Regions from separate parts of the Homo sapiens genome. Here regions 2, 3, 4 and 5 are each linked to region 1. The links come from fine-mapping of genetic effects on gene expression. A gene starts in region 1. Each other region holds a variant in brackets. All regions are shown on one strand. Distances are between the middles of the regions.

Evidence for each region. PIP is the estimated chance that this variant, and not a neighbour inherited with it, causes the effect.
Region 2: its variant is fine-mapped to the expression of UACA in whole blood (TOPMed, PIP 0.95).
Region 3: its variant is fine-mapped to the expression of UACA in putamen (GTEx, PIP above 0.99).
Region 4: its variant is fine-mapped to the expression of UACA in blood mononuclear cells (TOPMed, PIP above 0.99). The same link has a PIP of 0.9 or more in whole blood.
Region 5: its variant is fine-mapped to the expression of UACA in sun-exposed skin (GTEx, PIP 0.96).

Annotation. Positions count from the first base shown.
Region 1 is chr15:70,761,590-70,766,694 of GRCh38, reverse strand. It overlaps UACA (uveal autoantigen with coiled-coil domains and ankyrin repeats), which reads left to right and starts at 3,137. Exons shown (of 19, transcript NM_018003.4): 1 at 3,137-3,365. The coding sequence starts at 3,288. RefSeq lists a silencer at 2,963-3,372.
Region 2 is chr15:70,669,879-70,674,983 of GRCh38, reverse strand. UACA (uveal autoantigen with coiled-coil domains and ankyrin repeats) reads left to right here. Exons shown (of 19, transcript NM_018003.4): 14 at 2,983-3,019; 15 at 3,893-3,945. Among named protein-coding and RNA genes, the nearest start is that of SALRNA2, 37 kb to the right of the region's middle. The variant C/T (reference allele first, on the strand shown) is at 2,521.
Region 3 is chr15:71,191,820-71,196,924 of GRCh38, reverse strand. The region is part of intron 3 of THSD4 (thrombospondin type 1 domain containing 4); the gene reads right to left. Among named protein-coding and RNA genes, the nearest start is that of THSD4-AS1, 5.3 kb to the right of the region's middle. RefSeq lists a silencer at 1,301-1,595. The variant C/A (reference allele first, on the strand shown) is at 2,434.
Region 4 is chr15:70,843,095-70,848,199 of GRCh38, reverse strand. The region is part of intron 1 of LARP6 (La ribonucleoprotein 6, translational regulator); the gene reads left to right. Among named protein-coding and RNA genes, the nearest start is that of LARP6, 8.5 kb to the left of the region's middle. The variant C/G (reference allele first, on the strand shown) is at 2,982.
Region 5 is chr15:71,080,327-71,085,431 of GRCh38, reverse strand. All of the region lies in intron 3 of LOC105370886 (a long non-coding RNA gene), which reads left to right. Among named protein-coding and RNA genes, the nearest start is that of THSD4, 33 kb to the left of the region's middle. The variant C/T (reference allele first, on the strand shown) is at 2,766.

The DNA.
Region 1 (5,105 bases):
ACACGATTCAGTAAGCGATTGTCCAGTTAAACTGTATGTGTTAGCATACAGCTTACACATTTGTTATCTAATCCAGAACACAAGTTCCTTGACAGCAGGGATCAAAATAGGGGTGGTAAGCAGATCAACTTGCTCCATTTGTATTATTTGAGATTACCATGTGTATATATAATCTAGTAAAGTAATTTTAAAAAATGCATTACCCTTCCTGGTATATATTGTAAATAAATAAATATTGGAAAAAAAAAAGAAGTAAAACAAAAAAATATTTTATATAGGCTCAGTGTGATAACAAACAAAAGGTCATCTAGGTTTGATAAGTGCCCTTTGCTCTGAAGGGAAGATAAAAATAAATAATAGTGATAAGAGTTAACAAAATAAAACCCAACCTGTCTGGTTGAATGCTAATAATAGTGACTTTACTTCATATAGGCAGCTTCCAGATCAATGTAAAAAAGCTTTACTGAATATTCAGACCAGTGCTATTTACTTAGCTGCTCTCAAATGGGAATAAGCAGACATCAGCTATCAAGTTTCTAGGCTGGAAAAATCCATAAAGGCCACTGGACACAGACACCATGGGGACATCATCCAGACAGTTCATAAAAATAACTTGCCCAACATTTTTGGAACCTGATGCAAGCTATACTTGTGGTTCTGTCTGTTTCCTTTGCTTTATCCAGTAACAACAGAAAAGGAGGCCAGTCACCAGGACTATGATAACTTGGATGTTACAGGAGACAACCAGTACAACATAACACTGCAATTAATAACTCAAGAGCCAATTACTGAGACAGTGCTCTTGTAAGCAATTAACATTTAAGATTCAGTCAGAGGACTAGATGGTAAATGGGTGCTTATCTTAAGCCCAGAGAAAGGAGTTGATTGAGACACAAATATTTGAGCAGGACCATAGCCTCAGATCATTCCATCTGTGTTCACAATAGGGGGAATCCCAATCCTGTGTCACATAAATACATAGAACAAACAACCATAATTTGCTATAGTAGTCAATAAGAATGCATCAATTCATTCAGAAATATTTATTAAACACCTATAACATGCTAAGCATTCTAGGGAATTCAAATATATGTCAGTTATTCCCCAATTTTAAGTAAATTGAAGTCCAGTAATGAAATAAGGTTTGCTCAGCTCATATGTGTTAGTATCATATGAGAGGTATAATTGCTGTAACTATTTGGAGGATGGAGAGATCACTTCCAGTTACTTGATCAGGGAAGGTTCTATAGAGAGGAGGGCACTTGGAAGGGACATACACTTAAAAACAAACTTTTTGTTAAAGCATAACACACACATAAAAGAGAATATATTGCATACAGTACAGGCTCATTGAATTTTCACAATCTGAAAACACTAGATATGTAACCAGCACCCACAGAGAATAGTACAGTATTCCAGAAGCCCCCGACATCCCCTACCAATCACTCTTGGGGGAGTAGGATTTTCTGAGATGAATGTAGACAGACAGAAGATTATTGGGGGAGGGATCAGTATGCATAAAGATGTGGAAGTTGAAAGCCATGACCCATGTTTGGAGAATGGGCTGAAGAGTAATTCGCTTGGGGTGTTGGCTAGAGAACAGGGTCGCGTCCACGTTATACAGCTTTAAATGCAAAGAATTAGATTTTATTCGTTAGCTGCTGAAGGCTTTTGAGCAAGAGGAGTATTTTTGTAAGACTTATTGATGATGGCTGATAATTTATTGGTGATGGGACAATTAAGAGACTGAAGGTTGGGAGACTGGCTGGGAAGCTTCTGTAATAATAGTCCGGGTATGAGGTAATTTTGGCTCTGCAGTGGCAGTGAGAACAGAGTAACTGACCATACACAGACACTTTAAAGAGCCAACAAGAACTAAATGACTGGAGATCTAGAGGAAGGGGGAGGAATCAAAGAAAATTTTCTTCCAAAGATCTAATCAAGATGAAATTTAATAATATTTTTGGGTAGTTAGTTGTTATTTACTTGTTGTATAGGGTTAACACAGTCTTTGAATGCTGCCTCTCCAAGAAATTCTGAAAACTTTCTTACAGTATTTGAAGAAAACCTTGCGTTACTATAAAGAAACTCTAAAGAGAGCAACTGACCTTTCAGACAAAAAAGAGTCCTTTGTTAGTCAGAAAATGTGGACCGTTTGTCTTTTCAAATGGATGCATGCTACGATAAACGTTTTGCTGGGGGGAAAAATGACTCCAAAGAAGACTTTTGAAGATGTCACCCGAACAGCAAATTATTGGGTGCTGAGCACCTTCCTGTTTCTTCATCCTCTTAAATAATTTTTACTAACCCAGATTTCTAGGTAAGATGATTTAACTTCATCGTATACGTTTACATGTAATGTGTTTCTACAGAAAACAAAAAACCTTTTTGAAGAAAAAAGGGCGTAACTTTTTTTGACAACTTAAATCACTGGCTGTGGGAGTCATTTTTAATTGATGGCACCTCTTCTCCTCCCTCCCCGCCCCCATTCCGTCCCTTTGCTTCCAATACGGCGGATTCTTCACTCAACAAATAAACGAGCACGTAACTTGTACTGTAACTTACTATAACGTCTTTCAAGGTCTTTCTTAACTGTACGTTTTTCTGCACAATCAGCACCTTATTTCTTAGAGACTGTTTATTTCTGGAATTTTTGATGCGTGTGGTGGTTTCCAGGCACCAGGATTTGGTAGTAAAACAGGAGACTGAAAAGAAGTTGCTCCTGAAAGCTGTTCTGTGTGCAGGTAACCAAGAGTCATTTCTAAGACCAGACGGAAGGGAAGGAACTTTACTTGGTAAAGAGCGCGTGGGTGGAAAGAGGAGGGGAGTCCGGGAAGATGAGAGGTGGCAAAGGCGGGACCCCGTGCTCTCTCTAGATCTTAAGCTCCGGGTGGGCGGGCGCCGGTGGCCTGGAGCCCGGCCTGCGCGCATCTCCACGCCTCTGGCCGCCCACCTCCTCCGCCCCTTCCCGGGCTAAAGTTCCCAAACTTTTCCTCCAGCTGGGAGAGGAAGGGTGTTACTCAGTTTAAAAGGGAAGTCCCGCCCCATTCCCGCATTCCGATTGGTCGCGGTTTGCCACGCCCCCGCCAGGGCAGCGGGTCAATTGGCTACGGGAGGGGAGCCCCGCCTCAGGCCTGTCGACGTCTGCTGCCCGGGGCCCGCAGGTGGCAGGCAGGTGGGGCTGGTACAGCCCGCGCCGCCTCTGCTGCAGCCGCTGCCGTCTACTCCTTGCGCGCTGGCACTCCGCAGCCTTTAAGGTTCGCGCGGGGGCCAGGCAAGAGTTAGCCATGAAGAGCCTCAAGTCCCGCCTGAGGAGGCAGGACGTGCCCGGCCCCGCGTCGTCTGGCGCCGCCGCCGCCAGCGCGGTGAGTCCCGCGGTCCGGGCTGCGAGGCGCTCCGCTCCGGGAGCAGCGCAGCCCTCCTTTGCTGGCGAGTTCGCGCGCCGCCTTCCTCTGCTTTTCCTCTGCCAGTTCGGCTTCGGCGGCCCTGGCGACTCCTCCCTGAGGCCGGAGACTCCGTCAGCCCAGAGACCCCGGGGATCCTCCCCGCCGCCGCACCCGAGCCTCTACGGGTCTCTTCCCCACCCCTTTCTCCCAAGCCTCCGAACTTCTGGAAGAAACCTCAGTGGGGCGGTTCTGGCCCCCTCCTCCTAAATCCAAAGTTCCTCGATTGGCACCCCTACTCCGCTCTTTCCGTTGACCCCCCCTCGTCGCTCTCCTCTCCCGGCGCTCGCCCTGCTGCCCACGCCCGCTCGGCCGTGTTGGCTCCCCAGTCCCCGGGGCCGGGGCTCGCACCAGGTAGGGCAGGTGGGCAGGGCTGCGCACCCCGCGCCACCGTGCCCGGACTCCGGACCTTCCCCGGGTCTGAGACAGCGTCAAGCCCTGCCGGGCTGGTGGACGTCCCGTGCTGGCCGCTGTCGTTGTCACTGGGAAGTTTGATTCCCCAGCGAGGCAGAGGGAATCGGCTTAGTCGTAAAGACAAAACCCCACAGGGTGGTGACCCTAGAGGTGGTGAAGTTGGGAGGGGTGGTGGTGATGTGGGTTGTGTAAATCGCACCTGTGGGGCGGGATCCGTGCGGGGCTCTTTCGGTGCTGACCTGCAGCGCGGCCTCAGTGTGCGCGCCAAGGAGTAGTCGGGGCCTCTTTAGTTGGCAGGAGAACAGAAATCTTGAGAAACAGCCTGACCGCAGATGTTGTGATTTAGATAATTTGTCACGTTACAAGAATGGCGATATCATCAAAATTCTATATCATTAAAATAAGTGCCACTTACAAAGTCTTGGAAGAGTCGAACGTAAAGGAGTTGTTATGCTCCAACTGCACAGTTACCTAGTTGGGGTAATTAAAATGAACCTTTACAATTCAACGCAGATTTTACCAAATGATTATATTCTTTTTATCAGAATACTAATTAATCTGCTTCTGCTTTTTTGAGTTAATTCAGTTATGCCTTTCTCTCCACCTATATCGAGGATTATTTTACTTGGACATAAAGGAAATTGTGGAGGAACTACCTAGACTTAAATTCCTATTTCAAAAAAAGAGAGTAGATTCAGATGACGTAATTGATGTTCTTTGATAAAGCATGAAGTCGTTTTATAAGCTCATGGAAAACAGAGATTACTTTGTTTCACTTTTTTTTTTAAAAAAAGTAACTGGCAGAAATGTCATTTAGTGATATTGGAGTTCATTACAGTTAAGATTCTACTTCTGTAATGCAAGTTGTGTTTTTAGCCTTATAGAAGATACAAGTTTCTAGATTTATTAGCTTTGTTTTCCCTGGTTGTGTTTGATTTGCACTAAGGATGTAAATCCCACTTGGAGGTTTATATGCCTTAATTTTATCCAGTTTTCTAGAAATGCAGAGTATTTAGTAGGTATTATCAGCATGATAGTTTGCATTTTATACATTTGGAACATAAAGTGCATATCTCTGAGCTTAAATCTTTAGCACTCAATTGAGCGTTCTATTTTTCTCAAAATGACATAATAAAGATAAACATGATATTAACCTATTTATGTAGAAAAAGCAAACATTTCTGTTTAAATATTAGAATAAGTTCTGTACAATTTAAAAATAAAAGCGTAATGAGGAATAAAACTTAG
Region 2 (5,105 bases), 92 kb after region 1:
TCAAAGTATAATATAATTTCGGTACTATTTATGTATGTATTTCTTCTAGGAGCTAGACTTTCGCATGTCTTAAGTGTAAGGTATAGGCCAGGCGCAGTGTCTCACGCCTGTAATCCCCGCACTTTTGGGAGGCCAAGGTGGGTGGATCACTTAAGGTCAGGAGTTTGAAACCAGCCTGGCCAACATGGCAAAACTCCGTCTTTACGAAAAATACAAAAATTAGCAGGGCGTGGTGGCACATGCCTGTAATACCAGCTACTCAGGAGGCTGAAGCAGGAGAATTGCTTGAATCTGGGAGGTGGAGGTTGCAATGAGTGAGATCACGCCACTGCACTCCAGCCTGGGTGACAGTGAGACTCTGTTTCAAGGGGAAGAAAAAAAAAGATGTTTTTCTGTAGCTTTAGACAAACAATTTGTCTAAAATGTCAAGTCTATAACTTACAATAGTCATAAAAGTAACTTATTTTTCTTATAAAAATACTTATTTACTTTAGAAAAATAAGAAAGTATATTTAAACTGAAAGCAGATGCAAAAGACACCTATAATCTTAACTCTGCTAGCACCTGACTGAAATCCTTTCAGACATTTGTACATAATTTGTGTGTTATATACTCATTCAACAGGTGGGATCATATAGTACATCCTGTTTTGTAACTGTTCCCATTCAGTATGATGGGGACATTTTCCTCAGTCACTACGTATTCATTGTGATGAAATTTTATGCTAGATATGATTTTTTACTTTCAAACAGAAAATTACAGGTCCCACTTTATATGTGACCCAGTATTTATAACAGCAACCATTAAAAACTACTAAGAATTTGCCTGGGTGTGGTGTCTCAGCCTGTAATCCCAACACTTTGGAAGGCCGAGGCAATTGGATCGCTTGAGCTCAGTTGTTCGAGACCAGCCTGGGCAACATGGTGAAATCCCGTCTCTACCAAAAACATAAAAATTAGCTGGGCGAGGTGGTGCATGCCTATAATCCCAGCTACTTGGGTGGCTGAGGAAGGTGAATCACTTGAACCCAGGAGGTGGAGGCTGCAATGAGCCGAGATCATGCCTCTGCACTCCAGCTTGAGTAACAGAGTGAGACCCTGTCTCAAAACCAACCAACCAACCAACCAACAAACTACTAAGAATTCATCATTTACAAACATTGAATATCTACTGCTGTATTATCTCACATGCTTAAAAAAGCTTAACTGTCAAAGGAATTACTGTTACGAGTTATGTATAATAACTTAACATGTAGCTATTTCCCTTGTATGTATAAAAATATGGGGAAAATGGATATTTTAGAATGAGACTGATTTTATGTTACAACTTTTATATTTGTTTTCATTTGAGTAATAGAGATAATAAGACCAAATTAAGTTTTTTGAACTCCTTATGTGCATAGCACCCCCTAATACATGTATGAGGCCATTTAGTAGTTATTGTAAACTTTAGTATTAAATATTCCATAGAACAAAGAGCTTAACTAAGCTTATAGGTATTTTTTCATACTGTGGGGGCACTAATGATTAATGGAGGTGGCATTAATTTAGTCATGGAATTGTGGACTGTTTTATCATGGTCAACTACTTCAGAGTTTGGTATGTAGCTTTTAGGACTGATACACCTAAATATACAAATATGAACTACATCTGCCTGTCCTTACTCTTCATTTCACTCTGGGGTTTTTTGTTTTGTTTTGTTTTGTTTTTGAGACAGGATCTCACTCTGTCACCCAGGCTGGAGTGCAGTGGTGCAATCACCACTCACTGTAGCCTTGACCTCCCCGGGCTCAGGTGATCCTCCCACCTCAGCCTCCTGAGTACCTTGGGTTACCCTGCCCAGCTAATGTTTTTGTGTGTGTTTGTTGTTATTTATTTATTTATTTTTGAGACGAAGTTTCACTCTTGTTGCCCAGGCTGGAGTGCAATGGCACGATCTCGGCTCACTGCAACCTCCGCCTCCCAGGTTCAAGCAGTTCTCCTGGCTCAGCCTCCCTACTAGCTGGGATTACAGGTGCCCGCCACCACACCCAGCTAATTTTTTGTATTTTTAGTAGAGACGGGGTTTCACTATGTTGGCCAAGCTGGTCTTGAACTCCTGACCTCAGGCAATCCACCTGCCTCAGCCTCCCGAAGTGCTGGGATTACAGGCATGAGCCACCGCACCCAGCTCGTTCTTGTATTTTTTTGTAAGGACGAGGTCTCACCACGTTGCCTAGGCTGGTCTTGAACTCCTGGGCTCAAGTGATCTGCCTGTCTCAGCCTTCCAAAGTGCTGGGATTACAGGTGTGAGCCACTGTGCCTGGCCTATTCTTACCCTTGAAGTGTAGTATTTTAATTTATATATTAGATTCTTTGTATTTGGCTTACTTGGGAAAAGGAACAACCCAGTATATTTTGATTCACTGTAGCTAGAGTTCTCTATTATTTCCTAACTAATGGATTGATGGATTTATTACTATGTGTAGGTCTCTGCCTCAGTTTCATTTCCTGCTCTCTCTCTCTTTTTACTTTCAAAGTA[C/T]TTGGTATTTTATAAACTCTGGAAGAAGTGGTTATGTTGATATTTCATAGTCAATGAGGTAGGGTTTCTGCTTCCTACAGTGGTAAAGTAAAATGAGTTATTGACATGAATGTGGCCACTTCCTTCCTTTTGAGGTAAAGCAGTAGCAAACAGTAGTCTTTGAAAGTTGTTTCAGTTCATTTAGGGCTCACTTTTTTTTTTCTTTTGAGCAATAAAGTTTTTTCTTAAAACACTTGGCTGCTTTTATTAAAATGCTTAGTGAAGTACTTTATTCCCAGCTGATCTCTCTAAGTGTTGCTAGTGTTGTTTCTTTTTGTGGGTTTGAGTAGAATAATGCTCTGGAGAAACAAGAATGTCAAAAATGTAGTTTTAATGACTGCATGATTTAGAGCTAAAATAGATACAGAATTTAACAAAATGAGGCAGCATTCACCCTAAAATATTTTATGCTTCTGATTTCAGAGTGATCATTTAGGATCAGGAAGTCATTTCAGTAACCGTAAGTATAAAAGTATGGATTATCATTACAGTTCACCTAGTTCAAGTAAAGAAGAATGTTTATTCTTACTTGTTTAACTATACAGGAATAACTGTACAAGATATTCCTGCTGCTAAACTTCATCAGCACATGGAACTAGGAAGACGTTAAGATGACTATTGTAACTTCTAACATATTCTGATAATTACTGAAGCTCTGATTCTCCTTAGCTACCTGTATTTTAAAATTGTATATTGTATGAATTACCAAATTTGCCTTGTTGATTAGTAGACATAGACATTTGTCTTGTGATATTTAGGGTTCATTTTTTTATGGAAAGAACATAAACATAGTTTTCTAATTTGGAGAAATCGGTCTTAATGCAAGTAGGCATTTTAAAATTACATTTATGAATTATTTTTAGACCCTACATAATCTTTTTTATTCTGCAATGTTAAACAGTTTCTCTAGAAAATCTGTTTTTGTTTCCTAGTGACTATTAAACTATTCTCTCCTACAACAGTAATATTTATGCTATAAATTTAAATCATCATTTTTGTTTTGATTGATTATAAGATATATGTTTTATTATCATGTAGCCTAGTTTAAGAGTCCTCAATATTTCTGAAGTTTTAGTGATTCTGCTGAGAGAGAGCATAGAAAAAAATAAGAAAAAAAAAAACCAACCTAGTATCTGTTGTTCAGTAGATTGTAGGTACTTCTGTTTATAGAAATAATAAGGGGAAAATGGGTATTTTAGAATGAGGATACTTTTGTGTTGTACCTCTTGCTTCTCTTTTATTTGAATAATAAAGGAAATAACATCAAATTAATGTTTAGCCTACTTTAGTATGGATATTGAAGTTAAAATGTCATTCATTTGCATTTATTTAGGAAAAGAAGATATGCTTCTTAAACAAGGTCAGATGTATATGGCAGACTCACAGGTAATAACTGTTTTTTTTTTTAATTTTAAAAAACATTTAAAGAAAATTTTTGTGCCTTTATAAAGAGAGGAGAAAGCGGCATTGTACATTAAGTATATATACATAGAGTGAGGTTTTCATTATCAAAGACAAGTTGGTCCTGCTTTCTTGAGTTTAATAAAAACAGATATTGCTGTTTCTGGTGCCCTCTAGAGTGTTTTTGATGATAGTGGTTATAATAAGAGATTTGAATTATAGTTTCATTGCATTTGATGCTAAGTTTCTGTTCATTAACAGTGATTAGTTAACTCTTCATATTTGCCCATATAAAGGGGAAGACAGATATGAATAATCCAAAATATAATTTTTTGGTTTTTTTTTTTCCTCTTGATCCAGGGGAAAGGCAGTTCAGATTTAACTAACAGTAAATCTGTAGGGGTCTGCAGCAAGCTCTATCCTTGCCTCTTCAGAGGAAAGGATTCGGCTGAGGGGCAGAAGTAGGTTTAAGGCAGAGGGAGAGACCAAGGGAAGTTTTAGGGCAGGAGTGAGTTTATTAAAAAGTGTTAGAGCAGGAACGAAAGGAAGCAAAGTACACTTGGAAGAAGGCCAAGTGGGCGGCTTGAGAGATCCCAGTACCCTGTTCAGCCCTTGGCTTGGGATTTTTATGCACTGGCTTGGTTTTGGGGTTTGCATTTCTCCTCCCTTGATTCTTCTCTTGGGGGCAGGCTATCTGCATGCATAGTGGCCTGTCAGCACTTAGGAGGGGCCACATGTGTAGTGCCTTTACTAAGGTTGTGCACCTGCTCTCTAGGGGCTATTTTCCTTTACCAGTCAAATGCTCCCTGAAGAAGGTCATACATCCACCATTTTGCCTCTTAGTGCGCATGCTTGAGCCTGCTCACCCAGCTCCGGAGATCTTATCAGGAAGCCGCTGTCACCAGCTCCAGGTGTTTTCTGTCTATTGGGAGACTCTCTTTCCCTGGTGCTGGCTGTGACCAATCATTCTCTTGACAACTCTGATAACTAGCTGGGTTTCTTTTCGTGGTATTTTTATAATTCAGAGAATATTCTGTTGGATTAACAGTGAAGGTACGCAGAAGTCAAAAATCTTATTAGTTAAATCTATAATTCTATGAAATTATCTGCAAATTTAAAATCGCAGTACTTGTTTTTATTCAAGG
Region 3 (5,105 bases), 430 kb before region 1:
TGTATGGCAGTCTTGACAATCCACCTGGAACCAACTCCTCCACTGGTTTCTGCCACGCATACCATGATGCCATCTTCCTCCTCTCCCTGCCTCTCTGACAGCTGCTTCTGCTGCTATTCCTCATTTTACTTCCTCCAGAATCTCCCCCTAACACCAGAAGCTTTCTCTTTCCCGTGTTCCTGCTTGCCCATGCTCACAGCTTGTCTAGAATGTAAGCCAGAGAATATGACTGACAATAGCTGCCTGGCATTTCTGCCACCATCTTGATTGCCACATTTCTGAAACTCATCTCACTATCTTCTCATCTGACCCACTCAAGAGCACCTCCTCCTATGATACTTGGTGTCTGGTGGCAATACTGCCACTGTCCCTAAAGCCACAGCTACAAAGTGGAGTCATTCTTTTTCTCTCTCTGTCTCCTTCACTCCTCCAACCTGGTCAGTTATCGAGTCTTCTGGATTCTTGCAATAATCTCTCTTTTTCAATTTGATTATAATTCCCCTAATTTGGATCGTACAGTTCTTAGTGGAAAACTTTACCTACTATAGCCTGGCTTTGAAAGCAAGCAGTCCTGAGTTCAAACGCTGGTTCTGTGATTTATAAGCTCTGGGACTCTGGGTGGCTGCTATGGTTTCAATGTGTCTCCTTCAAAATTCAGGTGCTGCCAATGTGATAATATTAAGAAGTGGGGCCTCTAGGAGGTAATTAGGTCTTGAAGATCCCTCCCTCATGAATGGGATTAAAGGCCTTATAAAAGAGGCTTCTGCCACCTTCAGCTGGCTTGCTCTTCTGCCCTGTGAGGACTCAGCAGTCGGCCCTTTTGCCCTTCTGCTTTCCACTATGTGAGGATGCAGCAAGAAGGCCCTCACCTGATGCTAGCACCTGGAACTTGGACTTTTCAGCCCCCAGAACTGTAAGAAATAAGTTTCTGTCCTTTATAAACTACCCAGTCTCAGGCATTTTGTTATAGCAACACAAATGGGTGGATGCAGTGGTTATTCAACATGAATAAGCCTTAGTTTCCTCATTGGTCAAGTGTACTCAGCTTGCAGGTTATTGAATATGACAGATATCACATTGTACAGTGTCCTGCATGTAGGGAATGCTCAATAATTGGTAGCTATCACCAGTATTATTATGACTCCCAGGTGGTCTCCCTGCCACCAGTCTTTCCCCCAACCCCATCCACCCAACACACACCTCCAGAGCAACCCTCCGACAATACCACTTTTATCAGTGTCTCCCCCTTAGCTCGAAGGGCTTCAGTGGATCCTCAGTACCAGAAGGATAAAGTCTATCTCGCCTAACCTGGTATCTAAGGTCTCTCTAGTATGGACTCAACCTGCCTTTTTAACTGGACTTGTTATTGGCCCTCCCCTGGCCACCCCCTACCTCCAATCTACAAACACAAATTCCTTCTGTGCCCCCTAGAGGGGTCCACTTGGTATTGTCAGAAAACCTCATTCATTCTCACCTTCCCACTACACCCTTCTAGTGACAAGATAAATGTCCTTCCTCCCTGGCTCCATCTACTGGACTTTTCCCATTTCTGCCATCCCAAACCACTCTGCATCCCAGCAGAGAGGTTGTCTTTTGCTAAACTCAACATTTCTCCATTGCCTTTTTATATATGCTAGAGTTGCCCTTCCTAGGATTGACTTATTTTGACTTCATCCTCTTTTAATATTTTGGGATGGAAAACAACCCATATAGGGATGCATATACATCTCTATAGATTTTAATATTTCTTAATGTCTCCCGTAGACTGAGTACAGTTACGTACCTTCCCAAACATTATTGCTTTTCTACCCTCTACAATGAATTAACACGAGGCCTTGCCCATAAAAGTAGTGGATACATATTCACTGATTTGGAAAAACAGCCCCTAGTGAGAGTGTGGAGGGCCCATTCCACATGGTGGACTATGACAGACATGGTCCCAGCCCCGTGCTGGGCTTCGGAACACCAGGCTGTGCTTCATTCCTGTTCCTGCTTCTCTGGTGGCCGCCGACTTTCCCAGGGCAGCTTCTCCAACTGGAATTCCAGATGTAACATCCCACAAGGTATAACTATGTGTAGTTTTCATTCCTCTGCAGAAGAGCCATGGGCTGTGTCTTACAATCCAACAGTGCAGGTGGGAGCCACCGAAGTGAATGTGCACTGAAGACCAGGAACAGCTGGTGTCCAGAAGCCAGAGTTATGCATAGTTTTTGAGGCACTTAAGGGATATCATGAACCAGGGGCTGCTTTGGAGATGGGACTGGTAGGATCTAAATGAATTTGTAGGGGCCTCTCCAAATGGGACCTGCATGCAAGGTCAAGCCTTGTCTTCGGTAAGAGAATGAGTGACACGTAGGAACCGGGCCCAGGAGGGCAACAGGCCACATGAGATGGGGTCACTAGAGAAATTATACCCTTACACTCCCACAGGTG[C/A]CCAGAGGGGCCAAATCCATGCCCCGACCCTGAGTGTGGAAATGGCAAACTATCTCCAGACCCCTCCGCAGTGCCCTTAGTACCAAGGACTTGAGTGGGCTGGGCTTCTCAGTAGCAGGTGGCTGGGGCAAAGCTGGAGGAGGCAACTTCTACTCAGTGGCAAGAAGAGCAACCTCGGTTTGTGAAAACAGATGGAGGCATCTGTTTCTGTCATCTATTGGACAGAAGAAACAGAACATAGCTAGACTGTACTTCCATATTCTCACCAACTGCATTAGTCCTTTTTAAAGCTGCTGATAAAGACATACCCGAGACTGGGAATTTATGAAGAAAAAGAGGTTTAACAGACTCACAGTACCACGTGGCTGGGAAGGCCTCACAATCATGGCAGAAGGATAAAGGCACATCTTACATGGCAGCAGGCAAGAGAGAGTGAGAGCCAAGTGAAAGGGGAAGCCCCTTATAAAACCATCAGATCTCAGGCCGGGCGCGGTGGCTCACGCCTGTAATCCCAGCACTTTGGGAGGCGGAGGCGGGCAGATCATGGGGTCAGGAGATCGAGATCATCCTGGCTAACACGGTGAAACCCCGTCTCTACTAAAAATACAAAAAAATTAGCTGGGCGTGGCGGCGGGCGCCTGTAGTCCCAGGGGGGACTAGGGAGGCTGAGGCAGGAGAATGGTGTGAACCCGGGAGGCGGAGCTTGCAGAGAGCCGAGATCACGCCACTGCACTCCTGCCTGGGCAACAGAGCGAGACTCCGTCTCAAAAAAAAAGAAAAGAAAAACCATCAGATCTCATGAGACTTATTCACTACCGTGAGAACAGTATGGGGGAACCACCCCCATGATTCAATGATCTCTACCGGGTCCCTCCCACAGCACGTGGGAATTATGGGAGCTATAATTCAAGATGAGATATGGATGGGGGCCAAACCATATCACCAACCCTGGCCATTCTTCCTTTAGGTAACCAAGGTTCTGTGACCTGGGCCTGGAACCACAGTCCAAGCAGCTAGGAGGATCTGGAAATCCTAAGTCATGTATCATTACAGTTATCCCAAGGGTACCTAGAGGTATTTCCCTGTGCGTCATATCTCAGTGTAATGCGTGTTAATATTGCTAATCTTGTTCTGTTCAAGTTTAAGTGCTTGTGAAAATTATGCTCCTAGTTCCGTATGGCCCACGTCTCTACCACCACCCCAATCACCAAGCTGTGCCAGTCAGTGAGAAGCAAGCTTACAGGAAAGAGGGGGTCCTTTCTGAGTGTGGACGCCCAGTAAGAAACCCCAGACAATAACAGCAGCAGGACCATTTGAGAGTTGTGCCAACACTCAGATTTCCAAAGCTGGCCCAGCTCCTGATCAAAAGCAGGAATGAAGAGCATCCCCCCAGGATCCCCGCCCATCCCACTAGAAGTCATTCGTATTCCTGTGCAGTCAGCGGTTTGCAGCCAGGTTTGGCTGGGGAGGTCCCACTGCTCATTTCTCTCCTAAACCTCCCTGGTGTGCAGCCAAGTCTCCATTTTATGCAAACTTTAAAAACAGAAACGTAGGAAGAAAAACGATTCCCATGAAGGATGGAAAACTAATCTAACAAGAGATTACAGCTGTGCAGAGGGCTGTTAGGGAATCCGGGCACCTTAGCAGAACAGCTCCCCGAGGGTAGGGCAGCATCTCACATCCTTATTCATATTGTCCTGCACACAGACAGTTGTCATGGACAAGAGTATGAAGTCAAAATAAGTCAACTCTAGGAAGGTCAGCTCTAGCAAGGAAGCATGCTAGGAACTGCAGGACACTGAAATAAGTCTAGTTCCTATCCTAAAGAGTTTATAACCCGTCTAGGAGAATAATGCTGAAATACCTGGAAAAAAACTGTCGAGAACAGGTTCACTTCAAAATTCACCAAAGGAGCCAAGCGCGGTGGTTCACACCTGTAATCCCAACACGTTGGGAGGCCAAGGCAAGCAGACTTGAGGCCAGGAGTTCAAGACTGGCCTGGCCAACATGGTGAAACCCTGCCTCTACTAAAAATACAAAAATTATCCAGGCGTGTTGGCGCACATCTGTAATCCCAGCCACTCGGGTACTTGAGGCAAGAGAATCACTTGAACCTGGGAGGTGGAGGCTGCAGTGAGCTGAGATGGCTCCACTGCACACCAGCCTGGGTGACAGAGCTTCATCTCAATAAATAAATAAATAAATAAATCCACCAAAGGAATTTAAAACACAAGACAGTACACATCAAAAAAAGGCTTTTGGAATTTGGACAGTTTGGAAAGGTCAAGAAGGCCAGGTGCGGTGGCTCACACCTGTAATCCCAGTATTTTGGGAGGCTGAGGTGGGCAAATCACAAGGTAAGGAGTTCAAGACTAGCCTGTCCAACATGGTGAAACCCCGTCTCTACTAAAAATACAAAAAATTAGCTGGGCATAGTGGTGGGCACCTGTAATCCCAGGTACTCAGGAGGCTGAGACAGGAGAATCGCTTCAACCTGGGAGGCGGAGGTTGCAGTGAGCTGAGATCGTGCCACTACACTCCAGCCCAGGTGACAGAGTGAGATTCCATCTCAAAAAAAAAAAAAAAAGAAGAAGAAGAAGAAGGCAAAGCATAGGAGGTGGTGCTGCCCTTGGGGTATCAGATATCACCAAGGATTTGGGCAAAAATATAGA
Region 4 (5,105 bases), 82 kb before region 1:
GCTAGCACCATCCAAAATATGGTTTGTAAAAGGGTGATGCCTTTAACAAAGTTGAGAACATACCTGTATATGTTTTCAATCTGTCTCAGTGAAAAATCCTTATCTTTTGAATCTGCCCTGGTGTTTTTATATTGCATTATCAATTTGCCCTTTTTGAACCATTTCACATTCATTATCTTGTTCTAGAGGTGAGTCAAAAGAAATCTCACACAGACAGGACCTGGACCCTAGTGTTTTTCATAAATGATGTTTTTGTGTTTGGTACCTTCCTTATTGGTGTCCACCATTTTCTTGGTCTTGGTGGTCAAAATACCATATTCCACCATCTGCAATGATAGACAATGAGTCTGAAAAATCATTCCTGGATTGAAAGCTGTAGTGAGGGTCTCATTATTCCACCATCTTAGTTTGGATATTCTCCTCCTATAGGGTATCATTCGATTAACTGCGCAATCAGTGTAACCAGATTCGATATTTTATGAAAAAAGTAGCCTTGGATGTTTTATGCTACAAATCCTTTTGTTTCTCTAAATCATTTACAAATATGACACACCTGTAATCCCAGCACTTTGGGAGGCCAAGGTGGGCAGATCACAAAGTTAGGAGTTTGAGACTAGCCTGGCCAATACGATGAAACACTGTCTCTACTAAAAAATACAAAAATTAGCCAGGCATGGTGGTGCGCACCTGTAGTCCCAGCTACTCAGGAGGCTGAGGCGGGAGAATCGCTTGAACCCAGGAGGCAGAGGTTGCAGTGAGCCAAGATAGTGCCACTGCACTCCAGCCTAGGCGATAGAGTGAGACAACATATTTAAAAAAAAAAAAAAATTCAGCACTGATTCATGGAACCCAATTACCTGTTTTAAAATGTACCCCTTTATTTCTACCCATTTCTCACAGGTTTATAGCTATAACAAAAGACCTCATCACTCCCAGTTTACAATGTTTTGTTAAAAAACAAAACAAAGCAAAACCTTAAGTGTAAAACTTTTTCAAGCCTCCTTGAAAGGCCACTAAGAGCATATTCATCAGAAACCATACTTCCTCCCTCAAAGGATCCTGATAGGTATGATTTGCCCTCAAAACTATTTGCTTTACATTGGTGATACTTTTTAAATTCCCATTACATGCAAGGCTCTGGGGTAATACTATAATGAAAGAAACCAGCTTGAGTTCTACTCTCAACTCAGTGTTCGGGCTGCTAATAAAATGTGCACACAAGTAGCTATAATACAAATATAGATAAGTGTTGGGAGAAGTAGAAATGATTTTTTCTTCCTAGGAGAATTGCATTTAAGATGGACCTTAATGTGTGACTAGAATTTAGACCCGAGAGAGAGGAGCAAGGCATTCAGAGACAGGAACAGCAAGCTCAAAGGCACAGAGTCCAGAAAGCTTGTGACACTTACAGATAACTATGTCTTTCTGTTTGTTTGGAGCAAAGGATCTGAAAGGAAACCGATGGAAATAAGTTTTGATGCTGGTTACAGCCAGATTCTAAATGAGTCTGAATAAGGAGCTGAAGACTTTGTTGGTTTTTTTTTTATTATGTATGTATGTATGTATGTATGTATGTATTTATTTATTTTTTGAGACAGGGTCTCACTCTGTCACTCAGGCTAGAGTGCAGTGGCGCAGTCATGGCTTACTGTAGCCTCGACCTCCTGGGCTCAAGCAATCCTCCCACCTCAGCCTCCCAAATAGCCTAGACTACAGGTGTGCACGGCCATACCTGGCTAATTTTTAAATTTTTTGTAGAGACAGGGTCTTGCTACGTTGCCCAAGCTAGTCTCGAACTCCTGGCCTCAAATGACCCTCCGGCCTTGGCCTCCCAAAGTGCTGGGATTACAGGCGTGAGCCACCGTGCCTGGTTGGGAGCCGAAGAGTTTGAATTTTATTTAACAGGAAATAGAAAAGCTTTTATTATTATTATTAAAGTAAATCAGTGACATCAAGTAAAGCAGTGACATACTCTAGCTGTTCTTCAAAACATGTAATATGGCACAGAGTGGAGGAGGCTGTAGCCTAAAATATAACATGGGAGGTGGCAGGAGGTGGGAAGACAGAACCCTAGAAAGACTCTGGTTGGGAAATATACCAAAGATGCAGGAGTAAAAAGGGCTACAAATATCTGAAAGGTAATTTAAATTCTTCCTTTAGAACAATTTCCTAGCCTTTCTGTCTGCCAGTGGAAAGTAGCAGGTATTTTATTTTTAAGGGGGAAAAAAAAGAGACAAGATTATTTTCTAAAGGAATTGAATGAGCTCACTACGGAGATCTAGGGATGCGAAAGCAGAGCTGGCAGCCGCAGAGTAAAGCCTTTGCCATTTGGGTAGAGCCCCCAGCTTAATCATTCCCTGCCTGCTCACCCTCATGTGAAGCCTGCCACTTGGCATGCCCCACCTGTGTACATAGAGCCATCTAGGAAGAAAACCAGTGGGAGTGTGCAACTGCAGAGGGAACCCATACAACCCACTAAGAAAAAGCAGCATGTACCTTTTGTCTTCACAGTGAATAGCTGTGGAGTATAACTCCCCACACCCTAAGTGTGGGCTGTGTACAGTGGCCTTCTTCCAAAGAGCACAGTATGGGAGTGGGGATAAAGGGAGTGGTTTTACAGGGGAGAAACCCGACAAACACTACCTCAGATAGGTGATCAAGGTTAGCATCCACAGTGATCATTCATGTTGATAGCATCTACCCTGATAGGATGTGCTGAGAATGGAAATTTACCTCTGTGGTCCTCCCGCCAAAAACCCATAATCCCAGTCTAATCATGACAGAGAACATCAGAAAAATCCCAGTTGAGGGACATTCCACAAAATACCTAACCAGTACTTCTTAACACTGTCAAGGTCATCAAAAACAAGGAAAACTGTCACAGCCAAGAGGAGCCTCAGGAGACATGACAGCTTAATGTGTTAATGTATTGTGGTGTCCTGGATGGGATCCTGGAACGGAAAAAGGGACAATAGGCAAAA[C/G]TAAGGAAATCTGAATAAAATATGGACTTTAGGTAATAATAATATATAATGAACTAATGAACTAATTGTAATTAGTTCATTGGTTGTAACACATGTACCATACTAATGCAAGATATTTATAACAGAGCAAGCCTGGGTGTATATATATGGGAACTCTCTGTACAATTTTCACAACTTTTCTGTAAATCTAAAACTATTCTAAAATAAGTTTATTAAACCCTTTAATAAAGAAAAAATGAATTATTTCTTAGTCACTTGAAGAAAATCAGTGGCATGAAAGTTAAATGGAAGAACTGACCCCAAAGGATACAGAGGTGATGATGTTGAAACAAAAGACTCAAAAATGTATACTCCAACTAGCACCCTGAGAGTGAACTTAAGATACTGCATCCACAAAACAAGAGTAGGAAGCTCTTAGAAGGGAATTATCTAGGATCAAAAACAGTTCTTAGAAACTAAATAAATAACTACTAAAATTTAAAAATTCTGTAGGAAAGGTTAGAATATAATGTCAAAGAAATCTCTTAGTGTGTAAATTACAAAGACAAAGACAGAGCATATGAAAGAAAAAATAAACATAGAGGACCAATCCAGGTGGTCAGTCAACTAATAGGACTTTGAGACAAGAAATGTAATCTTAGCAAATGACTTAGCCCTGTAGGGAACAGTGTTTACATAGTCATAATAATAAAATACAACTGATTGACTTTCAACTTTCAGTATGTATCTATAGATAAAATATAGAATATTAGTTACCGAATGGAATGAAATATTATGAACCATGGCAAAATGAAATAAAAGTACATCTGATGCAATATGGAAGGTTGGAAATAGGTGAGATGGAAGAGAGAGTAGGACAATAGTGTGTATTAATATATCACGTAGCAAGGAATTGAAAAATACTTTTTAATGTTTATGGAATAAGAAACCACTTAAAGTATATTATTTTAAAACACAAATAGGGCCGGGCATGGTGGCTCACACCTGTAATCCCAGCACATTGGGAGGCTGAGGCAGGCAGATCACATGAGGTCAGGAGTTTGAGACCAGCCTGGCCAACATGGTGAAACTCTGTCTCTACTAAAAATACAAAAATTAGCTGGGTGGGGTGGTGTGTGCCTGTAGTCCCAGCTACTTGAGAGGTTGAGGTGGGAGAATTGCTTGAACCTGGGAGGCAGAGGTCGCAGTGAGCCGAGATCGCACCACTGCACTCCAGCCTGGGCGACAGAGTGAGACTGTCTTAAAAAAAAAAAAAGAAAAAAAGGTCGGGCGCGGTTGCTCACGCCTGTAATCCTAGCACTTTGGGAGGCCGAGGTGGGCAGATTGCCTGAGCTCAGGAGTTTGAGGCCAGCCTGGGCAACACGGTGAAACCCTGTCTCTACTAAAATACAAAAAATTAGCCGGGCGTGGCAGCGTGCGCCTGTAATCCCAGCTACTCAGGAGGCTGAGACAGAAGAATCATTTAAACCCAGGAGGCAGAGGTTGCAGTGAGCCAAGATCATGCCACTGCACTCCAGCCTGGGCGACAGAGTGAGACTCCGTCTCAAAAAAAAAAAAAAAAAAAAAAAAGACACCAAAACCATAAATAAAAGGCTAATAGAAGAACCAAAACTAAAAGAAAATTTGAAGAAGGGGTTATTTAGGGACATAAGTCATAAGTGACCCCAAATACTCATTTTATGTAGTAAGACATGAATAGAGAATGACTACGGTTGGCAAGTGAGAAATAGAGCTATAAGCATATTTTATAGAGCTATGAGATAACTCTCCTAAGAATTAAATGGCTGAAGAGAAGTTACCTCTAGGGAGGAAAGGTGGAATGGGGAATTGTTGATTTCTTTATAAGTTCCCTACTATTTTATTCTAGTTTTTGCTATGTTTATCTATTACTTTAATTTTTTGGAAAAATGTTTTGATGAGCTATTAATAAGTATCCAAGGGAGAAATAATGAGGATGGTTGGAATGGCAAAGAGAGAACAGATGGGAGACCCTGCAAAATGAAATAAGCACTTTATAATTGACTAAATGTGGGGGCAAAAGAGAGAGTGAAAGGACACATCCTAGGTCTTGAGCTTAAGTACATAGAAGAGTGAATAGGGAAAGTAGTTGGGGGGTGGGTTGGA
Region 5 (5,105 bases), 320 kb before region 1:
ATCAAGGGTCCCCAAGACCACCACCAGGCTCAGTGATTTGCTAGGAGGACTCACAGGATTCCACATATAGCCATGCTCACAGCTAAGATTGATTACAGCAAAAGGATACAAAGCAATTGTTTCATGAGCAAAGGGAACAGGCACATGGGGAGAAGTCCAGAGAAAGCCAGGTGCAAGCTCTCAAGAGTCTGCTCCTAGTAAATTCACACAGGACACACTTAGTTCCTCTAGCAACAAATTCTAACTACACATGTGAAGTATTGTCTGTCAGGACAGCTCATTAGAGACTCAGTGCTTAAGATTTTATACTGGGGTTTTGTCATGTAGGCACCTGCTGCCTAGCATGTAACAAAACTCCAGGCTCTCAGAAGGAAGGCAGGCATTCAGCACAAACCATTTTGTTTGTACAAATGGTGTAAGTCCAATGAGCCACGCTTATCACTGATAGAAGTTTTCTATCAATGTGGGGAATTATTCACTGGCCAAGCTCCCAGATGCCCACCAGGGGCCAACTTTCCAAGCAGACCTTTCTAAGGAGAGCAGTCTCAGGCAGCCATGGTGACTGTTTCCTGCACAGGTGTATACAATTAAACTCATGTTATCCATATAGTAACACTATAAAGTTCTCACTCACAAGCATAGGTTCAAGCATGAACAAATCCTTTGCTATCTTCTTAAAGTCCCAAGACAAAGCCTTCCTCCAAATATTGATGTGGATATATTTTTTTTTCCACCAAGAGGAGCCCATGTGCTACTGCCAACAAGATTCTAGTGCTCCAATTAGCCAAGTGTGGTGGTGCATGCCTGTATTCCTAGTTACTCAGGAGGCTGAGGCTGGAGGATCACTTAAGCCTTGGAGTTCGAGGCTGCAGTGAGCTATGATTGCACCACTAAACTCCAGCCTGGGTGACAGAGCAAGACCCTGTGTCTAAAAATAAATAAATAAATAAATAAATAAATAAATAAATAAATAAATAAATAAATATTCTAGTGTTCCAAGTTGGCAAAACCCACCTCAATCCCACCCCTCCTTTCTACCACTTCCTTGTATCCTTAGTTCGAGCTTTCAAGCCATCCACCTGATTTGGGGTGCTAAATGTTATTCACAAACTGTCTCTTTCTCACCTTTCCCCAAGCCAGAATTGATCAGCATGGCCTCACCCCTGGTTCCCAGACCCAGAGGAGGTCACAGCTCTGAAGAAGTGCTTCAGAGGACTCCCCTGGAGGCTGAGCACAGTGAAGCTCAGAAAAGAGCCCTTCCCTCTGAGTTATTTAAAGGCATCTCTACTCTGCTCCATCTTCTGTCCTTGCTCCCCCACCTCCTTCTACAGTTGAGACATTATTGTCTTACTTTTGCCCTTCAGAAGCAAATTGTCAACCCAGCTCAGGCTGGGGCACAGTGACCTTTTCTTTAGACAGTTGTTCAAATATTCTGTGATATACAAATTGAACCACCCTGAAGTCAACCTCGAATCTACTCAATGGTAATGACTTGATTGCTCTTGGACCTGTGGAAATCCTAATCCTCAGCCCCATTTCACACAGTGATGACTTTGCCCAGTTTATTTTCTTTTTTCAAAGGACGGCGTTAGAGAAGCGGCGAGGGGGAGATTACCCCTTTCTGTCTACCTAGCTCAATCAGTCCATTCATAAAGGCCAAATTGGGAGCCCCTCCACACTCAGATCATTACCTCAGTAGGAATTCCCCTTCTGTTTGTTTTTTTTTTCCAAGTGTAGGATCTGGACTGTCTGTGTGTGAGGGGCTGGGGGTGTTTCAGGACAAATGACATCATGTAGACCCATAGAAACAGATGTTCAGACTTTCTGTACTTCATGAACTCAGTTTCGTGCCATCTACTGGAATGGAAACTGGCCAGGCCATCCGGAGGGAGCTTCTAAGACGAGTGGGTGGGACCTCACTGCTTTCCTTTCACTAAAACAGGAAGGGCCTGGGCTGGAATATCTTAGTGAGCACATCCAGAAATGGGCATGGAAAACCAGTGCTCAACCCACAGACTCCAGCTCCACCAAGCAGATTTGTAAGCGAGATGCTGAAATAATTTTTCCGCTCCACTTCCCCCCTCCCCTGCCCCCAGAAAGGCATGAGATATTTTTAGCAGGAAAAATAAATGCCCAATAAAAATGAACATAAAAATACCATACGAGGGACAGGGTACCCTCCCATCGGTTTCCAAGAGATCCCTGGAGTGACCATTAAATTAAACAGGCTTTGAAGCCAGCATTAGAGGAGTGGATGGGTACAGGCCAGCCCTGGTCTAAAAAGAGCTGGGGAGGGGAATAGAAAGAAGAAACTGGCCGAAAGAATCCTGTGCTTAATGAAGGAGAGTGTAGGACTAGGGAGAAATTCACAAAGCACACCATGTGCCTCTTCTGTGAGCTCATGACCATTTTGCCTGCCAAGTCCAATGACCTTCCCTCCACGCACGTCTCCCTGACCCTTCCGTGGCATCTGATCCATTCCTCCTGCCGTTGGCCTCTGTGGAACTGTCCTTTCTTCATGCTCCTCCTACATTTCTGCCTCAAGCTTAACAGAATAAAACCTGAGGTCCTCATTTTCCTCCCACACCTGCTTATTTCTTTATTTCCCCCTCAGTGAAAGGCATTTCCAGTTCCTCAGGCCAAAACCTTGAAGTCATCCTTGACTTCTCTCTCTCACACCACACATCCAATCTGTCAGCAGATCCTGCTGCTCCACCCTCCAAATACATCGGGACCTGACCATTTCTCACCCCCTCCCCTGTTCC[C/T]GCCTGGTCCAAACCCTCGTCATCTCTCACCTGGCTTATTCCACGGGCTTCCTGCTTCACCTTCCTGCTCTGCCCTTGCCCCCTTGGACCATGGATTCTCAACACAGTCATCAGACCCATATTGTTAACATGAAAGTCAGAGGGCAATCTCTGCTCAAAGCCTTCAAAAGACTTCCAGTCTTACCTAGAAGGGAACCCCAAGTCCTTACGATGGCCTTCAAGGCCTCAAGTGGTCTAGCCCTGTGTTAACTCTGTGTTAACTCTGGCCTCTTCTCTTCCTAGAGAGCCCTGTTAAGCTCCGCTACAGCCACATGGGCTCCATGCTAGTTCTCTCATCTCCAGGCCCTGGGACATGTGATTCTCTCCTCCAAAAATACTCTCCCAACCAGATGTCTTCACAGCTCACTCCCTCACTTGCTTCAGGTCTTTACTTGAATGCCACTTTCTTGGTCGCTCCATCTAAAACTGCAACCATCTTGAAATTAAAAAAAAAATTCCCTTCCTTCCTTTATTTCTCACCTTGCTACTTTTCCCCATCTAACCTATTATAGAGGAAATTGACTGTCTTGCTTATTTCCTGCTCCCCTCCTTCACTAGAATGTAAGTTCCATGAGGGTACAAATACTTGTCTCTTTTTTGTTTGCTTGTTTGTTTTTGCTGATGAGTCTCCAGCAGAACCTTTTATTAAATAAATAGAATGAATGAAGGAGTGGATGTATCTGCTAAAATCCACAACCACTCCCAACCTCCCTGCTCTTGATATTGATACTAGTACTTGTCACATCTTCCAGCTCATGGGAGCTGTTCTGGCCCATGCTCCTCCTGTGCCACTAGCCTCTAACCAGATGCCATCTCCTCTGCCACGGATCTTCCTCCTGAGGAACCCGGTGGTGTGATGAGGCAGCTCAGTCTCTGCTCAAGTCACAAGAACCAGGACAAAGTTTTCAAAATGCTTCAGAGCAAGTGGCTTCAACAAACTCCAAACCTCTGGTGCCTCATCTGTAAAGTGGGTTTAATAATGCCAACTTCCATTAGGTTATTGTGAGAATGACATGGGGTAACCTGTGTATCATATTTCTCCTGGTGCCTGATAGAATCACTGCTTCCCTTCCTGCTGTGTTTGTGCCATTCTAAATGTCTCTGACTCTGATGGCTACCAGATTCTCTTGAGGGTCTCTTCAGTCTTTTCAGTAGGCCACCCACCTTGTCCACTGCTGCATAATTTCTCCAGGTTCCTTCCTGGTTCAAAACTCTTTGTGTGGTCAGGTGCGGTGGCTCACGCCTGTGATCCCAGCTCTTTGGGATCCCTAAGTAGAAGGATCACTTGAGCCCAGGAATTTGAGACCAGCATGGGCAACAAAGCAAGACTTCGTCTCTACAAAAAATAATTTAAAAAAATTAGGTGGTTATGGTGGCACATACCTGTAGTCCCAGCTACTCAGGAGGCTGAGGCAGGAGTATGGCTTGAGCCAGAAGTTGGAGGCTGCACTTAGCTATGATTACTCCACTGTACTCTAGCCTGACGACAGAGCAAAACCCTTCTCAAAAACAAACAAAACCCCAAAAACTTTGCATTCCTTCCAAAGGATGAAACATTTCATTTAACCCAGCCACATGGAGTTAAATATGGTCAAGCCAAATGAACTCATTTCACATGTTTAGCTCAAGCAAGCTGATTTCTTCACAGGAGCTGCCCAGTAAATGCTTCAGTGACGCCCACCATGATGTGTGTGGGGTTAGTTCATCAGCTGAGCTGTCTGAACCACTTACAGACTTCCAAGCCCTACATGTTCTTCCTTGTCTCTGAGTCATTGTGAAAGCTGCCCCTGAACTTAGAATACCCTTTGACTCTTTCCTATCCCCCTCTTTACCCACTAAATAGCACTACACTTGCCAGAGTCCCAGCCACTTGTGGGGCTGAGGCAAGAGGATCACTTGAGGCCAGGAGTTTGAGGCTGCAGTGAGCCGTGATCATGCCTGTGAATAGTCACTGCACTCCAGCCTGGGCAATACAATGAGATCCTGTCTCTTACAAAAAAGTAAAAAATAAAAAATAACACCACATCTTTCAGCAGCCTTAAGGGAGGCCCTCCTTTCAAAACCCCACTGTACCTCCTCCCCGAGGTGGGCTTCGCTGCCCCTCTACTGTGCTCCCACCACATCCGTGCTTACTCCAAAGAGGCACGTACTATGTTGAATTGCATGCGCCTGTTTAGTCATCTACCTCTTCAACCCAGGCTGTGAGCCTGGTGGGCAGGGACCATGCCCTATTCATCCGAGTGAACTGGTGCTGAATACAATTATTTGGCACATGGTAGGTGTGGAATAAAGGCTTTCTGA